Regions from separate parts of the Homo sapiens genome. Here all the other regions are reported to be linked to region 2. Evidence: microRNA targets listed by miRTarBase, many of them from high-throughput screens and not tested one by one. Region 2 holds a microRNA gene; each other region holds the end of a gene's coding sequence.
The links. Region 2 holds the annotated microRNA hsa-miR-15a-5p (UAGCAGCACAUAAUGGUUUGUG, at 1,954-1,975, opposite strand). A microRNA usually pairs through its seed, bases 2 to 8, with sites in the 3' UTR of a target mRNA and lowers its output. Matches are read on the target gene's strand: a 7mer-m8 pairs with bases 2 to 8, a 7mer-A1 pairs with bases 2 to 7 and ends in A, and an 8mer does both.

Region 1 (3,000 bases), not on the chromosome of region 2:
TATAGATTTTTTAAAAAGTACAAAGACTAAGCAGTAAGTTCTGTCACTGACGCAAACTAGGATGTCAAAGAAAAATAGATTAACTATTTTTACCTAAAGTAGTGCAAAGAAATCTGGCAAAAAATGAAAGTGAACTCAATATCTGCACATCAGTAATGGGGCAGAATTTTATTTAAAAGGCTAGTGGTTCAAATACTATTGCTTGAATAGCTCTGGTAGATATAAAATGTAGTAACATCTGAGGTTTGTACACATGAGCAAAGGAGCTGAGGGCCAGCTCACAAAGGGATATTTGATCCTCAGTCAAGAGAGAAGCTAAAAGCGCATGCTGCAGGAGTAACCTAATGGATTTATTTGGACCATACTCCCACCTTCTGACAAACAGAAAAAGACGTGGATAGAAAACTGTCTTTCCACACACAAAAATCTGGCTTAATTCTTCTTGCTATACAACTATACCTCAGCTAAGAAAAAAATCTCTTGTGAAAAACTCAACCTGGGCTACTAAAAATAAAAAGGAAATTTTTAATGTCGTAAACAAGTTTAGTAAACACCATGTGGATTTTCTGTTGTTAATGAAGACATGATACATTCAAAAAAGTATGTATTTTTTAAAAAGAACAAAACCAAAAAATTTTCTAGAAAGAGACTTCACAAGAAAAAAATGAGCCCAAGGTTCATCCCTCAATCAGAAATCGGTCTTAGCACGCATCAGTAAGCCCTCCTCCAACATACAAAAGCACTGAAATTTGCCTTTCAAGTACGTTACTGAATTTAAACATTAAGCGGAATCACTGCAGAGCATATTTTGATGGGTTACTTCAATACCCACCTGGTCCAGTTCAAAATATCTATAGATCCAGTTTGTACATATTCCACAGGTATACTGATAAAATCATCTATTATCCCATTTTTTTTAATGGCAGTTCTTATATAGCTCGAACATTAAGATCAACAAATTCTCAGATGAAGTACATTAATAAGACACCTCAGAAGTGAAACAAACCTAGTTTTTACTAAAATGATGGGATAAAGGTAGTGTCTATGCTGAAGAGCAGCTTCACTTGTTTCCCCACAGAAAAAGGCCCAAAATTTTTGGAGGATAATTTAAAAACTAAGCCAATAAGGCCAGGCACGGTGGCTCATGCCTGTAATCCCAGCACTTTGGGAGGCCAAGGCGGGCAGATCACCTGAGGTCAGGAGTTCGAGACCAGCCTGGTTAACATGGCGAAATCCCGTCTCTAATAAAAATATAAAAATTAGCCGGGCATGGTGGCATGCACCTGTAATCCCAGCTACTCAGGAAGCTGAGGCAGGAGAATCATTTGAACTCGGGAGGTGGAGGCTGCAGTGAGCCAAGATCACACCATTGCACCCCAGCCTGGGCAACAGTGAAACTCCATCTCAAACAAAACAAAACAAAAAACAACTAAGCCAATAAAAAAAATAAAATATACACCTTAAGATATTATAAAACTTGAAATAATGTCAGGTGCTATGGAATGGGAAACAAGAGTTCTGAATCCCCCCACCCCCAAAAAAAACTGTTAACAGGTTTTAAGGGAAAAACAAAACCAGAACTCCGAATATGAACAGCAATACACAGAATCTATAGCACAGAACACCACACAAGAATGAGTTTTATAGCAGTACTATCATGAGAGTAACTGGCTGGAGACTATACTTCCAGCAACAGGGCTCCTAGGTCAAAAATGTGTTAAAAGCTTGTAATGTCAACAAGAACCAAAAAAAAAAAAAAAAAAAAAAAAACGGGGTGGCGGGGGGAATGAAGGGGAAAGGGGGGCATGAAGGGGAATAAGGAGGAAAGGCTGCATGCACGGGTCTATTATAGACATGATATTCAGCAGCATAAAAAATAATACCCTCCAAAGAATCCCTCTACTGGGGCAAAACCTGTTTTTCACTGCTAAGCATGGAAAAGATTAAGAAAGCAGAACAAATTCACTTCTAACTATAGCATCTTCCATATATCAATGACAAGCATGTTCAACCTGATGCTACATGTTAATAAAATATTCAGTATACATAAGAATCTAAGCAACATAAAAACAAAAGGCTAAATTATGAACCTTAAAAAAATTGGAGAAAACATGTTTTAAAGCCAAGTAGAATGATTCTGATAATTATTATATATGACATAATCCACAGAAAGGCCAAGAAAAGAATCTTCATATTGTTCAGTATTTAGGCTTGATGTTGTCCCAAGAAAACAGTGATAATAATTCAATGAATGTGTTACACATACAACTAAAAAGTCCCCTTCTGGTTTCAAATGAATTTAAACAACAATCTTCCTTGGCTAATTTTTCTCCTCTGTCAAACAAACCTTCTATGTACAGGACCAGTTTAAATCCCTCCTCCCCTTCAAACACTAGATATGAACATCCAGGAACATTCTACAATGCAAAGTGCCTTAAGAAAGAGAAGGATTCTGTAGTGCCAGTGATAGAACTGATCTGAGGAAGCTGAGATGCTATTAACACTGATAAGAGCCAGTCAGGCAATGGTGGTTTGTTTCTCCTCAGGTGTTTCCTCCAACAACTGCATGATCAGTTCATGCAGGGGTTTGCAGATCTTTGCATAGCCCCCTCCTGTCAGATGCAGAAAATCAAACATGTCGTGGCAGGAGATGGCACCGTCCGAGTGCACAAAACCCCCGTCGGTATCCAGGAGCTGCACGTTGGCAAGCTTCGGCAGCGAAACCTTGAGGAGTTGGTTCACCTTGGCGTTCTTTTGCCTCAAAGGATTGGGTTTCTCACCTCGAGGTAACAAACCCTGGGGCACAGTGGAAAACATTAAATTAGAAGATTCACTTATTTTTCTCTACTTATTATTTATAACTTCAGATATTCCTGGAACATCTCCATTTGGCACTTTCTACACCTTTGAGTTGTGAAACATTGGAAAATACTGTTTTGAATGAAAGCTAACCATTTCTTCTTAGTTTTTTCATGGGTTCCCTTCCTCCTGTCCCTTAAC
Region 2 (3,267 bases):
GAGACAGGGTTTCACCACATTGCCCAGGCTGGTCTCGAACTCCTGACCTCACATGATCCACCTGCCTTGGCCTGAGATTACAGGCATAAGCCACCACCGTGCCCGGCCTTTTGTTCAGATTTTAATTAAATTAGGCCAGGGGTGGTGGCTCATGCCTATAATCCCAGCACAGTGGAAGGCTAAGGCAAGACTGCTTGAGCCCAGGAGTTTGAAACCAGCCTGGGCAGCATAGTGAGACCCTGTCTCTATTTTTATTTATTTATTTAGTTTTAATTTTTACATTTTAATTTATTTTTTTGAGATGGAGTTTCACTCTTGTTGTCCAGGCTGGATTGCAATGGCGCGATCTGGGCTCATTACAACCTCCGCCTCCCCGGTTCAAACAATTCTCCTGCTTTAGTCTCCCGAGTAGCTGGGACTACAGGCATGTGCCACCACGCCCGGCTAATTTTTTGTATTTTTAGTAGAGATGGGGTTTCACCATGTCGGTCAGGTTGGTCTCGAACTCCTGACCTCACGTCATCCACCCTCCTCGGCCTCCCAAAGTGCTGGGATTACAGGCTTGAGCCACTGTGCCCAGCTCTACTTTTCTTTTCTTTTTTTTTTTTTGTTGAGACAGAGTCTCCCTCTGTCACCCAGGCTGGAGTGCAGTGGTGCGATCTCAGCTCACTGGAAGCTCCGCCTCCCAGGTTCATGCCATTCTCCTGCCTCAGCCTCCCGAGTAGCTGGGACTACAGGCGCCCGCCACCACGCCTGGCTATTTTTTTTGTATTTTTAATAGAGATGGGGTTTCACCGTGTTAGCCAGGATGGTCTTGATCTCCTGACCTGGTGATCCGCCTGCCTCGGCTTCCCAAAGTGCGTGAGCCACCGCACCTGGCTGTCTACTTTTATTTTTAATAAAAAATTTTAAAAATACAAAAAAGTAAAAAAAAAAATTAAATTATGTTGACATTTTATATCAATAAAACTACAATGATAATTTGGTCTTACTCTGAGTTAAATCTTGAATACAAAAAAGTAAACAAAGTAAACAAGACCTTATTTTTGACTTATCAAACAAAAATCTTTGGCTAAGGATTTAAGAAAACATTTTAATAAAAACATGAAAAAAATAGTATACCATTATAAAGTTAGAAGACATAAGACTAAGACCCCAATCTGTGATGTGTAGCAAATTATTTGAGTTTTGTGTTTCCTTAGCTATCCAATGAGTGGGTTGGTCACTTGTAAGGGTTTTTCTACCTTTAAAGTTATGGTTAAGTGTGACGTTTTGACAACCAGAATTTTAGGTATTTAATTCACATATTTTGATGGCTTTTCCCCTTCAGATATAAAGAAATATTCAGAAACAGTACTAAATATTGTCTTCTAAGCTCTGTTCAAAATGCTTAATATATTTTATATTTATCTGTAAAGACATATTTTAAAAGTAATTTCAAAACAAAGGGAAAACTAGAATTTGTTTTATCCCAAGTAAAAATCTGAATTAATGTCTATGTTGAATATAAATGTGCATTAAAATAAATTCCTCTAATGCTGCATAAGCTTTTTAAAAAAACTTGATGGCATTCAATACAATTATTAAATTGCAATTACAGTATTTTAAGAGATGATACATCTGAAAAATTAGTATTAATTCATTTTTACAGAATCATACTAAAAATAACAAGATTATCAATAATACTGAAAAGACTATCAATAAAACTGAAAACACATTAGTAACATTAATATACATTAAAACACAACTGTAGAGTATGGTCAACCTTACTTCAGCAGCACAGTTAATACTGGAGATAATTTTAGAATCTTAACGCCAATATTTACGTGCTGCTAAGGCACTGCTGACATTGCTATCATAAGAGCTATGAATAAAAAGAAATATATTTTCTTCAGAAGATCAGATCCTTGTATTTTTGAGGCAGCACAATATGGCCTGCACCTTTTCAAAATCCACAAACCATTATGTGCTGCTACTTTACTCCAAGGTTTTATTTTTTTTAAACACACATTCGCGCCTAAAGAATATAAAAAATATTTTCTTTCAGGAAAAAAAGAATGCATGTAAAAAAATCTATGTTTAAACATTATAACATTGATGTAATATGCATAATTATTTTTAAGGAGATTTTAAGTAGAATAATAAAACATTTCTACATCAAAAACTTAACTGAAGTCCATTCTGTGCCCAGCACAGTGCTATAGGTTAGGAAACACAAAGAATAAAATGAGGAAAAGAAAAGCATTTATTTGCTATGCCAACTTAACAGGGCAATACAACTAAATGCTTAAACTTTTGAATATATTCAATATATGAAGTTATTTTTCCTTGTATAAACAAACAAGTAAATTTATAAAATTTGATCTTTACCTTGGTAAAAGGAGAATTTACAAACATTTTGTTCCTTGCAGTACACCTTTCAAAAGACATCTTCATCAAATAGGTAAGACTTCACATCAAGGGAAAAACATGAAATGACATACAAGAGCTCAGTTTCAATAAACTTAAGCTAGCAAAATGCAAATATACTTTTAAAGAAAAATACTTTAATTCTAAATGTTAATTTTATTAAATATCTAATTAAGACATTTTAATTCCAAATATAGTTAAGAAAAAAAGCTCTAAACAAACTAATTCTCCCTTAAATAATTTGTTATTAATAATCTAAATATTTTACTTTCAACATTGATCTTCATACTAGAAGTTCTCTTAGAGTTGGATATCATTTGATACAGTAATTCTAAAATATGAATCCTTAAGTAATTCTAAAATATGAATCCTTGGGATGATGAGTTAATTTGGTACCCTGAGATGAGAAATAAAACAAATCCCATAGCTCTTAATCTTCCTATTCCCTGTTTCTGGCCCATTTACCAGGTAAGGAAGAAACTCCTAGTTTCCACTTTCTCAGATGTAGAAATGAAATTCCTTTTCTCTAAAAGATATCAGAAAATTGCCACCACTCTAGTGGTGCCACCATTCAAGCCTGGACAATCTTTTTTGCCCCATGTTCTCATCATTAAAATGACTATGCTAAAGTTACATCTATTACAGAATAGTAAGGTGATGTACACAACCAAAGCACTAAAATTTGCTCTTCCATTCTAATATCTAATTACTTATACAAAGCACAGGGTCACATTCCATATGAAATTTTTCTGAGTATTTTTCCCATTAATAAAAAATATATGTAGCTAATCTCCTATCTAAGCAACCTGGATTTCACATATAACTCTGCTCCTTATTGTCTCAAGTTTCTGCACAACG
Region 3 (3,267 bases), not on the chromosome of region 2:
ACATTCTAGCAGCAATAGGCAAATACAGGCCACCTTCCTTCCTTAACACTTACTTTCTACTTTTGAAGTCTGAAGATTTTCTATGGTCAAACATTTTCAAAAGGTTTGAATATATCTTTTCTTACAAATGTTGGAAGCAGCAAAGTAACAGTGCCAGATAAAAACTCCTTGGCTTAAGCAAGCTCACACCTACTGGGATCCTTTCCTTTCCAGACAATGCACTGCTTGGCCCACCCACTGGGAGCATGTAATATTGGCCTTGTGTAGCATCCTATAAGATTTCAGTGTGATTGAGAGGAAGAGGAGGAGGAAGCCTAAGAAACAAAACCTCTACACTCGTGGCAATGGTAGTCTCGGGCATCTTCTCTTAACCAAAGCTGTTTCTAGACGAACAAGTCTATTTCCTATTCCTTGGAGGCACAGATAGTCCTTCTGGAATCTCAGCCCTGATTTTGCTAAGTCTCAGCCATTGAGCTCAAGGCACGATGTGACAGTAGTTCTCAAAATGTAGTCCAAGGATCCATAGGTGTTCTGGAGACCATTTCAAGGTGTCTATCTGTATTTTGTATTATGAAAGCTATTTTCATAAGACAAAATTTTGTCTTATGAAAACTGTTTTCATAATACAAAATTAAAGAGTCTATTTTTTTCACTGTTATCTTGTCAGTGACTGCACTGTGATCTCAGGACAAACTGAATATAAGAGATGTGAGACTCTTGCTGTTCTCTATCAAGCCATGCATTAAAGAGATGTGCAAAAATGTCATTCTTCTCACTAAAATGTGTCTTTGAGTTGGAAGATTTTTCCATAAAAATTGTAAAAATTTCAGTAAAACTTTTTTTTAGAGACAAGGTCTCGCTGTCACCCAGGATGAAGAGCAGCAGTGGGATCATAGCTCACTGCAGCCTTGAACCCCTGGGCTCAAGCAATCAATCCTCCTGCCTCAGCCTCCCAAGTAGCATGAAGCCGCTACGCCTAGCTAATTTTTTTTTTTAAACTTTTTTTTGTAGAGATGGAACCTTGCTATGTTGCTCAGGCTGGTCTGGATCTCTGGCCTCAAGCAATACTCCTGCGTTGGCCTCCCAAAGTACTGTGATTACAGGTATAAACCATCCATCGTTCCTGGCCTGACATAAAAGTATTTATAGTAACAGGAAACATGTTATTTTTCAAAGGGATTACTTTAACACTTTCTATCTTAATTTTTAATATACTAAATATTGATAGAATGCACATAAATGGAAATGCTCTTAAAATTTTTTTTTCCAGACTATGAAGGGCTGCTGAAATAAAAGTTTGGGCACGGTGGCTCACGCCTGTAATCCAAAGCCAAGGTGGGTGGATCATCTTGAGGCCGGGAGTTCAAGACCAGCCTGGCTAACATGGTGAAACTCTGTCTCTACTAAAAATACAAAAAATTAGCCAGGTGTGGTGGTGCATGCCTGTAATCCCAGCTACTCTGGAGGCTGAGGCAGGAGAATTGCTTGAGCCTGGGAGGCAGAGGTTGTAGTGAGCCAAGATTGCGCCACTGCACTCCAGCCTGGGTGACAGAGCGAGACCCCCCTCAAAAAAAAAAAAAAAAAAATGAGAACCACTTTCTAGCATAATGCTGGCTGCACAGGAAGCACCGAACACTGACTACCAGACCATCCAGCATTCCACACGGTTTCCATACAACTTGTGTGATTTTTCACACACACATTTTCAGGAAAATTGGATGCCAGATTTAACAGTTTCTTCTGAGGTTCACTTTGACCAAAAGAAGAAAAAAGATAAAAAGCTTTTAGGAACAGATGAGAAGAACCACATAGTCCTTAACACTGGGAGTATGACTGACTACTGCATGTCACTTACAGAATTATATGTGTAATTTACATCCAAGATGAAACTTGCATGTCAAGCTTTTGAGACTCAAACCAGAGCAACTGCAAGCTTCTCACTAGCATCAACTGATGAGCACAAAAAAATTCTATCTTTGACACCTCTAGGTTCATGTAGTTTAAAAGAATATGGTTTTGTTCTGGGGTTCATATACTACCATTCCTCAATGAAGCTATTTTAAGTTAAAAATATTAACATTTGGTCAAACACAGATTTATAATTATCTATACAAACCTGGAGGGGCCCAAGATAGCTTGTAAGGTGGACTTTCTGAATTCTAGTACATGGTAGAATGGTCAACTCTTCAAGATAAATCTTCAAGGCAACAAAAACTTTGGGCAGATCTGTGGAATCTGGAATCAGTAACCCTGCTTGAAACCAACACTGCTCCCAAAGCCAGAGAAGGCTTCTGCCTTAGTTGTCGTTACGTGACAAAATTCACAACCTAACCCAGACCTAAGCACAGAAAGCTTTTATTACCACAGAGGAAATCAGGAAATGCTGGAGGCAGCCTCGTTAGCTGTGTGATCAGGGAGGGGACAGCAGGCGGGAACCCGTCATCAATCATGTCTGGGCAGTCTCCCAACCAACAGGTTTGTTTGGTTCAGGAGAGGCTTTTGCTGGGCTGTGTGTGTGTATGATCAGGAAGGTCAGCCTCAACAAATGGGCTTCTTCCTGGACATAGGACAGCCAGAATCGGGGACACCAGCTGCACAGACACCACCTTAAAATGGAAATCAAATTAGGTTCATTACATCAGGAAGTACATTTCACCCTGATCATAAAAGAGGGACAAGGGAGCACTGGGCTCTACTGGATAGCCTTTCTTTTAGATAAGATGCTTTTAAAAGTTAAACATTGGCAGGGCCTTTCCCCTAGCTAACAGCAAGCAGCACACAATTCCAAGTCAGCTTGTAAAGCTTTTGTTATCTTTGTTATCTGTTATTATTTGGATTTTGAACGAAATTGATGGAGTACGAGCCGGTAGAGGAATCCTGTTTGATCTGGAAATTTTCCGTGGAGAGCCCAAAAGGTCGGAGAACCAAGTTCCCAAGATCTTTTAATTTACCTGTAATGTAAAAGCAAAAACTCAAATGAATACAGGAATGAACAGAAGCAGGAAGGTACCAATTAATCTTGCCTTACCACTGAGTACAAAATATAAAAGTATCTCTTTGCAGTTAAAGAAATGCCTACTTTTAATATGATGAAAGCTTCCAGGAGAGTTCCCAGCCCCTATTCCCCACTCAGCAGTGCAGTCACTTTAATGCCATCCACCCTCAGCCTGTGCTTGCATAGATGAGAGTGGAGTCCTGCTGGCTCTCTCTGGGAATCAAAGCCTCCTGTCCTAACTGGCCAGTGCTATCAGAGGACACAGGCTTCTG
Region 4 (3,000 bases), not on the chromosome of region 2:
TTTTTTGTTTGTTTGTTTGTTTGTTTGTTTGAGACAGAATCTACTCTGTCACCCAGGCTGGAAGGCAGTGGTGTGATCTCGGCTCACTGCAACCTCCACCCTCCCTCCTGGGTTCAATAATTCTTGTGCCTCAGCCTCTTGAGTAGCTGGGATTACAGGTGTGTGTCACCACGCCTGGGCAATTTTTGTATTTTTAGTAGAGATGGGGTTTTGCCATGTTGGCCAGGCTGGTCTCGAACTCCTGACCTCAGGTGATCTGCCCACCTCGGCTGCCCAAAGTATTTCAAATTTTTGAAAAGTTTTGTGAATCAAATTATCTTCAAGTATGCAAAAACCATGTCTCCACAAACAGTCTTCAATTGCTGACAAATTTTGGGGTGATAAGGTGGTGGCATATTTAATTAAGTACAATTAAGATGTCTTTAATTATAAAGGTTTCAGTTAAATATCTTTTGGAATTATAAAGAATTAGGCTAGGCGTGGTGGCTCACGCCTGTAATCCCACCACTTTGGGAGACCGAGGCAGGCAAATCATTTGAGGTCAGGAGTTCAAGACCAGCCTGGCTAACATAGTGAAACTCCATCTCTACTAAAAATACAAAAATTAGCCGGGCATGGTGGCACACGCCTGTAGTCCCAGCTACTCGGGAGGCTGAGGCAGGAGAATCGCTTGAACCTGGGAGATGAAGGTTGTGGTGAGCTGAGATCATGCCACTGCACTCCAGCTTGGGCAACACAGTGAGACTCCGTCTCAAAAAAAAAAAAAAAAAAAAAGAATTAAACTATACCTTTAATATATGAAGAAAATGATAGTTTGGCATCATTTATAGTAAATGTGTTCATAAACATTCTAAATATTCCAAACACGTACATACAGAAGAACATAATCTTAAGACAATGATTTTTATTACCTTTAGTCTACCACATTTGTCACTATAAATATACTTATTGAAAAAAAACCATACTATTTAAATAAGAATTCAGTTCATGAAAGTTTACAAAATACAACCAATGTACTCTGACTTGTGGTTATATCTTAACTATCTCAACTGTACTTTTCTGGTATGGCCAGACCTTTTGCAAATATTACCATGGTATTTTAATTTTATGATATAAAACAGTAGCAATTTATTAAGTTTTCCATTATAAAAATTAATATGGCAATTCTCAAAATACTGAAAAAACTGTTTTATGAAAGCAGTACCCACATCACTGCAACGTATTTCCTTTCTCTTAGAAAACATCTTCAAAAGGCACATTTTAATTACTAGTGTTTATATCTAAAGATAGTAGTTTGAGTTTTGAATTTCCAGTCAATTTTCCATTATCTCAAAATTGAGCTAATGGAGGGTTGGAAGAGGTAGGAGAACGCAGGTTTCCAATGAACTCCCTCAGGGCAGCAGAATCCTCATTCATCTCGTCCATGAAGACCAAAAGGAAGATATAAGGGAAAAAGGAATGGCAGATCTGTTTTGCATCCTAATTTAACCTTCTACACAAAATACTTCATTAAAAGCAAATAAACAAACACAAGATAGTAAGCTTAGAAAACAAAAGGCCTAGACCACAAATTACCCAGTTAAGCCCAAGTGGTGACATTGGTTTTAAGCCTCAAGAAAATGAAACTTCTGCTTCTGTAAAATCACATCTTCATCAATTGAATTTAAATCACTTAGTGCATTAACAATGTTACAAATTCCAATAATGTCAGACATATGGATGATATTCAAAATAAAGTACAAAAATACATTTCAAAATCAAATATAAATGACTTTATGGTTATCTGCCATGCTCCCCTTTAATTTGGCCTGATAGTCTACATTTGACTGTAATTATAATAACATCTGTAATTTCAAGTACAATAGTACAATCATAATAATTTTGAAGAACGTATGACCTAGGACCCCAAAATGCAATCCAATATACAATTTGGAGTATGGTTTACTTTTTAGTGAAGTTTAATACTAATTGAAGTACTAAATTGAACAAGGCCAGTACTCTGAAGTACTAATCTCAAGTATTTGATCCCATGTAAGAAACAGAAGGGAATTTTTAAGGCAATTTTGGTATTCCAAAATATTGGGGATCTACCTTAATTTTCTATTATTCCCCTCAAGTCTCAATTGAATATTTCCATTTTTTAAAAAAAGGGGAAATTTCTTAGGTTTTTTCCTCACTACAACAAAGTAATTCACCAAAAATATTCTCAAGTACAAAAACCAAAATGGTCCTCTATTACTTAGCCAAGATATAATTTTCTGGTCCCTAATAATGGTCACTTTAGGAGTACTTATTCAAATTCTAAAATAGCAGCTTTTGAAATTAAGGCAACATTGCTTTATTCTTACCTGTTTTTCTATTAGCTAACTATTTTATTAAAGTTCGTAAGAGCAATTTCAGACGTAGGCATCCTCAAAGGCCTTTTGTAATGTAAGAAGAATTAGCATGAACATTCTTCTCAATATTAAAAGTTATTGTATTCTACTTGGAATTCTAGAGTAATTACAGTCATTCCAGCATGTGTAAAATTACCTTTTAAACTAACAACAACATAAAATACAAATTTTCTACAAAAATACAATATAGGAGATATAGCACTTCTTCCCTGAAATAGAAATTTAATATTTGGACAAAAAACTGTAAACTTTTGGTTACATTCAAAATACAACCTTTTAAAGACTTAAATTGAGGTTTTAGCAACTGGAGCTCCTAACAGCAGATTTATATTACTATGATGTTTTAAAAACATGATAATTCTAAACAGTTTGTTTCTCTTACTCTGACATTTACTACCAGGAGGAAAAAAATGGCTTCCTGCAATTGACAGTCTGGGTAAAGGAATTGCTCAGGTGGACAATCCGACCCTGACTTCCACCTTGACTGCGTTCCACAATCACACAAGGTATCTGTACTAGCTGGAAAGGACTCTTCCCGTCTCTCAATGCCTGAGTAAGGTTTAAGATCTGTGGGAAGAAGAGAGATTTTTACCAATTTAAAAAG

Region 1: the mRNA of PAFAH1B2 is a reported target of hsa-miR-15a-5p. Seed matches in the 3' UTR shown: 7mer-m8 at 1,864-1,870.
Region 3: miRTarBase lists TTC1 as a target of hsa-miR-15a-5p. Seed matches in the 3' UTR shown: 7mer-m8 at 2,771-2,777.
Region 4: the mRNA of PI4K2B is a reported target of hsa-miR-15a-5p. Seed matches in the 3' UTR shown: 7mer-A1 at 2,308-2,314.

What each region holds. Positions count from the first base shown.
Region 1 is chr11:117,167,217-117,170,216 of GRCh38, reverse strand. It overlaps PAFAH1B2 (platelet activating factor acetylhydrolase 1b catalytic subunit 2), which reads right to left. Exons shown (of 6, transcript NM_002572.4): 6 at 1-2,796. The coding sequence ends at 2,518. Among named protein-coding and RNA genes, the nearest start is that of SIDT2, 10 kb to the left of the region's middle.
Region 2 is chr13:50,047,214-50,050,480 of GRCh38, forward strand. It overlaps MIR15A (microRNA 15a), which reads right to left and starts at 1,988; the gene lies at 1,906-1,988. DLEU2 (deleted in lymphocytic leukemia 2) reads right to left here. Exons shown (of 14, transcript NR_152566.1): 6 at 2,371-2,449. MIR16-1 (microRNA 16-1) reads right to left here and starts at 1,848; the gene lies at 1,760-1,848.
Region 3 is chr5:160,064,616-160,067,882 of GRCh38, reverse strand. TTC1 (tetratricopeptide repeat domain 1) reads right to left here. Exons shown (of 8, transcript NM_003314.3): 8 at 2,340-2,951. The coding sequence ends at 2,818. It also overlaps a transcript of PWWP2A not described here. Among named protein-coding and RNA genes, the nearest start is that of PWWP2A, 53 kb to the left of the region's middle.
Region 4 is chr4:25,276,977-25,279,976 of GRCh38, reverse strand. It overlaps PI4K2B (phosphatidylinositol 4-kinase type 2 beta), which reads right to left. Exons shown (of 10, transcript NM_018323.4): 10 at 773-2,963. The coding sequence ends at 2,790. Among named protein-coding and RNA genes, the nearest start is that of ZCCHC4, 34 kb to the left of the region's middle.